Linked DNA regions of Homo sapiens. The protein of the gene in region 2 purifies or fractionates together with the protein of the main gene of each other region. This does not show direct contact. Each region holds a gene or a part of one and is shown on either strand. Other genes may lie near its edges.

Region 1 (3,500 bases), on a different chromosome or scaffold from region 2:
TGACCTTTGATGCCCTTTGGCTCTATTCCCATGGCAACCTGCACACATGTTTCTTGCTCTTAGAGGGAAGAGGAAATCCTAGGGCTAGAATATAAAGCTACATAGAAGTTATCCTGGGAAGAAGATGGGCATACCCAGATGGTTCTCTCACCAAGAGGGTCCCAGGAGTGACAACAGGATGAGAAAGTAATCAAGGCAGAAGCCACCCTGACGTGTGTTGGGGACTCAAGAGGCCTAATATTACTGGGAGGTGGCAGGTAGAAACTGAGAGGTAGGGTGTGAGGATGAGGAAGACTGTCAGCATTGCAGAGGGCTTGGACATTAACCTCAGGAGCCGTGGACCAGCAGATCCAGTCTGTATGCCATGGGCACAAGAGCAACAGAGCTGCTGCCAGCACTATCACCCCACGCCATATCTTCAAACACACAGGAACCATGATTCTGTTCCTCACAGACTCTCTCATAATGAATAAAAATTTTATTTCAATGCACTACTGAAGTCACAGAGCTTTTAAAATATAAAGTAATAACATGTACTTCATTGAAAAAAATAAAATTGTCGCAAGGCTTATAATGATAAATAGCACTCCTCCTAAGCCTCTCCTTCCCATCCCTAATCTCCACTCCCAGGGAACATTAAACTCCTCTAGCTGTTTCTTCTGATATTTAACCTCATTTTTCTAGATAAGATGCTTATAGTTCTATTCCTTGACTTTCAACTTTGGAATTCTTTTATTCTACCCCTAAAACACAAACTCATCCCCTCCCACCTTTCCAGTACAGGTAAATCATAAGTTTTAGTTAAAGTAATACTCAGTGTGTACATAATTATATCATGTGTTACACCTGAGCCATCTAGTAGATTATACTTACATTTCCTTTCTTGTACAACTTTTTTTCCCCTGAATTCAGCAACTGCCTTGTTTTCTTTTCCATTTGCTTAATTATCTGCAAACCTATCACTATTTATCTTCAAAACTCTCCAAGGGGGCTACACACTCATCTCCTTACAAACACTTCCTGTCATATCCTGGTTTGAGCCTCTCCGAGGCTCACCACAACTGCTCCCAGGATAAGGCTCAAGCTTGAGCCTCTGCAGTTTGGTCCCAGCCTCCAGCCTCATCTTCTGGCCCCTGTGCCACAGGCCTCCCTTTCTTCAAGTGACAAGGGAGCCAGCCCCCACACCCGTATGCTGGTTTTAGCCTGTGCCTCCATCCATATGGGCCTTGTTTGCCTGAGACACTCTTTCCCCTCACTGCTTCCAGCTCTCCACTCTGCTCCCTCAGAAGCCTTGCCAGAGGGTCCTGGACCTATGGTGCTTATGCAGCTATTCGTCCTCAGGCCTTCTTCAGCTTCCTGTGTATCTCTGAGTGTTTCCAACCAGCTGCCTTGGCATTTACCAGCTGCATGGACATTACATGGCTGGATGGTAATAACAGCAGAAAAAAACCTAAGAAGGGAGACAGTCTCAGCAAATTTGGCAGCAGTTGCCTCCCAGCTCAGAATCTAAGGCCAATAAGCAAAGCCCAAGCTGAGGCCACCAACACCAACACTACCCCTTAAGACACTCACCCCACTTGCAGCCCACAAGCACAGGGCAGGCAGCATGTCTTGTTCGGTAGTCACCTTCCCCGCTCCGCAAGAGGTTGTACCAGAACACAGCTGTACCCTGGGAAAGAGATGGCCTTTCAGAACACATTCTTAAGAGACTGTGCTCAGGGACCTGACTGCAAGCATCACAGAAGCTCTGCCCTGAGCAGAAACACCCTCATTTTCCCATGGACAGGGGATAGGGCTCTGGGACTCCAGCAACAGAGACATTTCCCAGAAAGCACCTACCTTTCTGAGGTAGAAGTCTGGGAACTCACCCGCCCCTGAAGGGACTTCCCTCCCTGTCCTTTCTTCACAGGGAGAAGCTGGGCTACCAGGTCAGACCCCAGGTGGGCTAAGGCACATCACAGTGACAATCAGGCAGGCCAGGTAATGGTACTGGGGGACATGGACAAAGTAAAGTCTGAGCCTTGCTTCAACCTCTGACCCACAAGAATCAGAACTTACCTTCTTAGGCCAAATTGCAGCCCCCAGATCAGGGAAGACGGTGGCACCACCAGCTTCTACATCACTCATCTGGAAATATAAGACATAGAGCTTGACCCTCCTACCCAAGGCTCTCAGAGCAATTGAGCCACAAAGGACATGACAAGGTATATAGATTGCCCTCCTCTCAGCATGAGTGACACTACTTGGTGTCTGCTCCATGGCCAGCCCTTTAGCCAAGAAAGGCTCTTCCCATGCCTACTTAACCAGTGTGATTCATTAGAACAGTCTCCATGTCATGAGTGTTCAAGAGTTGAGGCCCACAGGAGACCCACATCCGGGCTGTCCCTGGATGAAAATAATCTGAGTCTGTACTCAGAAAATGCCTGTTCTGACCCCACCCTTTGAATCCCCATCTAGCCTTGGCCTTGCCTAAGCCACTGTACTCTGCAAAGTGCCCTGACCAGGAGCTCTGTACTGTTTCCAACACCATGTGCAGTCCCCACTGCAGCTCTGTTTCTCTGGCTCTAGTAGTTTGCTGCTCTAGTCAGACCTTCACCTTCCCAGAGTAGCCACCCTTCCTGGGGCCAACTGAGTGGAAGGGTGGGGCACTGTGTCTCTAGAGGCCCTGCTTTCTCCTATGGTAAGGCCTTAAACTACATTGAACACAAGTTCCACACTAGCAAGGCTGTACTCATGCCCACAGAGCATGCCTTGACTCATGGCCAAAGCACTACTTCTTTCCCATCTGGCTCTCTTACTTTTTTTGTCCATAATTTAATAAAAATTGGAGGTAAAAAATATTTCCACAGGACACATACCAGACTCACTGAAGGGTACTTGACAGACATATGGTAAATGAATAAGACAAAAGCTCTGATGGCTTCTCACAGCCCTGTGGATCAAACTCAGATTCTTTTCTAGAACCCCAAGGCCCTGTCAGTCTCACTAGCCTCTCTCCAGACACACCAGCCTTTTTCTACCTTTCCAACATCCCAAGTTCCTTTTCTCTTACAGGACTACATACACTCTCTCTTCTGCCAGAAACCATGTTCTACCAGCTAATTTCCACTCAACTTTTAAGTCTCAACTGATATGTTACTTCCAAAGAGAGGCCTCCACTGAACCCCAAGCCTGGGGTTCACAGCACCTGTCTCCATAACTACATAATAATCTCTCTGATGTTTAGGCTGGGCATGGTGGCTCACGCCTGTAATGCCAGCACTTTGGGAGGCCAAGGCGGGTGGATCACTTGAGGTCAGGAGCTTGAGACCAGTCTGGCCAAGATGGTGAAACCTCATCTCTACTAAAAATACAAAAATTAGCTGGGCATGGTGGTGCACGCCTATAATCCCAGCTACTTGGGAGGCTGAGGCAGGAGAATCGCTTGAACCTGGGAGGCAGAGTTTGCAGTAAGCTGAGATAGCGCCACTGCACTCCAGCCTGGGCAACAGAGGGAGAGT
Region 2 (3,500 bases):
TATTTCATTCTCTCTTTAATGAAACTGATATTTGATATTAACCTGGTTTTCAGGCTAATATAGTGTCTAAATTGTAGTAGACTGCATCAATCACTCTAAACCCTGAAAATAATAAGGGGTCTCATGTCACATGACCATGAAAAATTCTACTTCAATTGTTTATACTGAAGTTGGCCACATTATTTTCTACCAATCACTAAATGGCACACATTTCTGCCTTATGATGCATTATATTTTCAGATTTTAAAAGTTCCATATTTTCACATATGTAGTAAGCAGAATTGTGAAACCTGAGACAAGGAAAATGGAGCATATTATTAGAAAAGCCTCCTAATAAATTATGTAATTTTCTATTTCTTTCCTCTGTTTATTCATAGAAGCCACTAATAAAATGTACATAAACATTAGAAATGTGTTTGTATATGGAAGTCTATCACCATGTGCACTAAACTACAATCCCCATCAAAGAAGAGAGTCTTCTTTTTAGCTGACACTTTAGTTGCAAGGAAAAAGCCTAGTAAGCGCTCATTAAATATTTGTGGAAGAAGAAAATGATATAATCAAATTATCTTTCAAAAACAAGACAAATGCATTCTCACACCATCATGCGTTTATTAAGCAGTAATTTTAAAGCATTTTAAAACACTGAGATCACTATGACACTTACTTTTGGGCCATCAGGACCATGTCCTCCAGCCATTCCCTTCTCACCAGGGAGTCCAGTTATCCCAGGTTCTCCTCTTTCCCCAGGATTTCCTCGTTCTCCCTAGCACAAAATTGGGATGTCAAATAATCTCAATACTTGATCTAAAAATAGGTCAAAATGTTTCTGAGAAATGGCTTCTACTGCGGAAAAATTCAGAAATGAGACATTACTAAATCTCAATTTTCTAATTTAGTGATAAGAAATAAATTTGAAGTAAGGATATGCTAGTTTCATAGCACAAAATATTTCTCATAAAATTAATTTTTATCCAGTCAAAGAATTTATAGGTTAAAATAAATCCCAGTTTAAGATTTTAAAAGACACCTTTTAAAACTGAAGCCAGTGGGAAACAACATTAATCATGAAGATTAAAATACTTACTCTAGGTCCTAACGGGCCAACTGCTCCGGGATCTCCAGGAACACCCTATAAACACATTTTTTTTTTTTAATGGAACAAGAGCTTTGAGTTTAGGCATTTATCAGAAAACTTTCCAGTTCATACACCTAGTTTCTATTAATGTGCCATTAGAAGGCTGCATAAGCCAACAATTTAAAGAAAGAAAAGTACGTATATTTTTATAAATGAGGGAATATTACATGTTTTAGATGAAAACATTTTTCCAAAAAACTTTGTATTATACCTGAATGTTTGATTTTTGGCAATGAGAACATGCAAAGTACTATTTCACAAAGATAGAGCATTAGTTTTTTAGAGGCAACAAAATACATGCTAAATGTCTTTTTTTAAACTAATGGAAGATGAAAAAGTTTAAATAAAGAAAAGTTATATAAAAAGGGCTAAAGAGTTGGTCTTTTAAATAGAACCAATCCAATTCTACTCAATTAAGTAAATCTTTCTTGAGCCTATAATATGGACAAAGCACTCTACTAGGTATTGTGCATTCAAACCAGTGCAGTCATGTCTAAATTAAAAGTTTGTTTGTTCTTACATAAAAGAAAGTTTGTCAATTTGAAATTTCTTTCTTTGATAAAGATAACTTTATCAAATAGGCCTCCAATCTTATTCTCCGAAATGGACTGTCCTCACTGTGGCCTGATCTCCCTAATCTTATCATATTACTCCTTCCTTAAAAACCCTTCTTTTTTCTTTTCTGGTTTTTTTTTTTTTTTTTTTTTTTTTTGAGACGTTGTCTCGCTCTATCACCCAGGCTGGAGTACAATGGTGGCATGATCTTGGCTCACTGCAACCTCCACCTCCTGGATTAAAGTGATTCTCCTGCCTCAGCCTCCCAAGTAGCTGGGAATACAGGCATGTGCCACCATGCCCAGGTAATTTTTGTATTTTTAGTACAGACGGTTGGCCAGGCTGGTCTCGAACTCCTGATGCCAAGTGATTCACCTGCCTCAGTCTCCCAAAGTGCTGGGATTACAGGTGTGAGCCACTGTGCCCAGCCTAAAAACTCTTCCTTAGCTTCCCATTACTCTAATGATGAAGAACAAATTAGAATCAAATTAAAGCCCTCCATAATCAGGCCCCTGAGTCACCCTGCAGCCCCCTTTCTATTTTCCCCAAATTACATTACCCACTCTGATTTGTAAGCTTGTCTCATTTCCTGGAGGTTTTTCCTATCTTCCCTCCTTCATCATTATCATCATTCATCTCTCAGATCTCATAAAAGATATTACTTTGTCTGGAAAACCTTTCCTAAAACCCCCAAGTCTTATTTAGGTGCATCTTTTTTGTTTCCATAAACATAGTACCTCCCTTATTATAGCATTTAGAGCATGCTATTATTGTAATTGTCCTATACTCTCTGAATCCTACTATACTGTAAGGACAGCAAGGTCCAAATCCATTTTGTTCAGCTGGTTCAGGCCAGTGCTTTGTAGAGGCAAGCACACAGAGTGTTCAGCAAATATTTATTAAATGATTAAATGAACAAATGAATCATTCAAAGAAAAATAAATAAATCTATGAGCCAGGAAAACGACAGAATAAAATTGTTAGTATTTGTCCATAACTGTTTATATAAAGTGGTTAAGAACACATCTTGGGAAGCAGATGACCTGGGTTCAAATCTATTAACTGTGTGACTTTGGGAAAGTTATCTAACATCTGTATGCCCCATTTTCCTCATCTACAAAATGGAGATAATGATAGTACCTAGTACATAGGGCTGCTTTGAGAACTCAAAGAGATAATGTATGTAAAGGAAAGCACAACAGAGCCTCACACATAAAAAGTGATAATTGAGCCAGCAATGTATAGTGTTGCCATTATTATTATTTAAACACTTACTTGATCACCTGGTTTTCCACCTTCTCCAGGAGGCCCTGGAGGACCAGGAAGCCCCTAAAACAAAAGTAAGAAAATAAAATTGTGAATCTGTGTAAGTTTAACAGGCTACCAGTGTTAACAGTTTACCTTTTACAATTCATGGGGTCTCCAAGACTATATTTTCAATGAAAATATATTGTTCAGACATTTTAAGTAAAAAATATTGTTCAGAAGCATTAAAAAAAGACTACCAATAAAACACAACAGCTAGTCAATTTATAGGATTGTATTTTCATCTGCACACCACTTAGCAAAAAAAGAGATAATGTAACAGGAGCTTCTTCATATTTATAGAGTTTTTATGGCTCTGTGAACAATATTTTAGACTGCTAGAATATTATTTAAAGTCAGTCCAGAAAGTTTTTTTTACAAATTATGATCTTCCTCCTATTAAATAATGTACATACTGATATATGTAGATAAATTATGAAACTTTGTTCAATAAAAAATTCTAGTCACTGTGCCGATAAAACAAAATCAGCCTTAAAATGGT

What was found. Proteins that work in one complex are often made in the same cells at the same time.
Region 1: the proteins of COL5A2 (region 2) and P4HA2 purify together in Homo sapiens (co-immunoprecipitation; one large-scale study listed by IntAct). This does not show direct contact.

The regions. Positions count from the first base shown.
Region 1 is NC_000005.10:132,193,354-132,196,853, forward strand, and holds part of P4HA2 (prolyl 4-hydroxylase subunit alpha-2 isoform 2 precursor), read right to left. Parts: intron 2,128-3,500; coding exon 2,059-2,127; intron 1,670-2,058; coding exon 1,573-1,669; intron 1-1,572. UniProt on the Homo sapiens protein: Catalyzes the post-translational formation of 4-hydroxyproline in -Xaa-Pro-Gly- sequences in collagens and other proteins.
Region 2 is NC_000002.12:189,057,762-189,061,261, forward strand, and holds part of COL5A2 (collagen alpha-2(V) chain preproprotein), read right to left. Parts: intron 3,023-3,500; coding exon 2,969-3,022; intron 1,133-2,968; coding exon 1,088-1,132; intron 767-1,087; coding exon 668-766; intron 1-667. UniProt on the Homo sapiens protein: Type V collagen is a member of group I collagen (fibrillar forming collagen). It is a minor connective tissue component of nearly ubiquitous distribution. Type V collagen binds to DNA, heparan sulfate, thrombospondin, heparin, and insulin.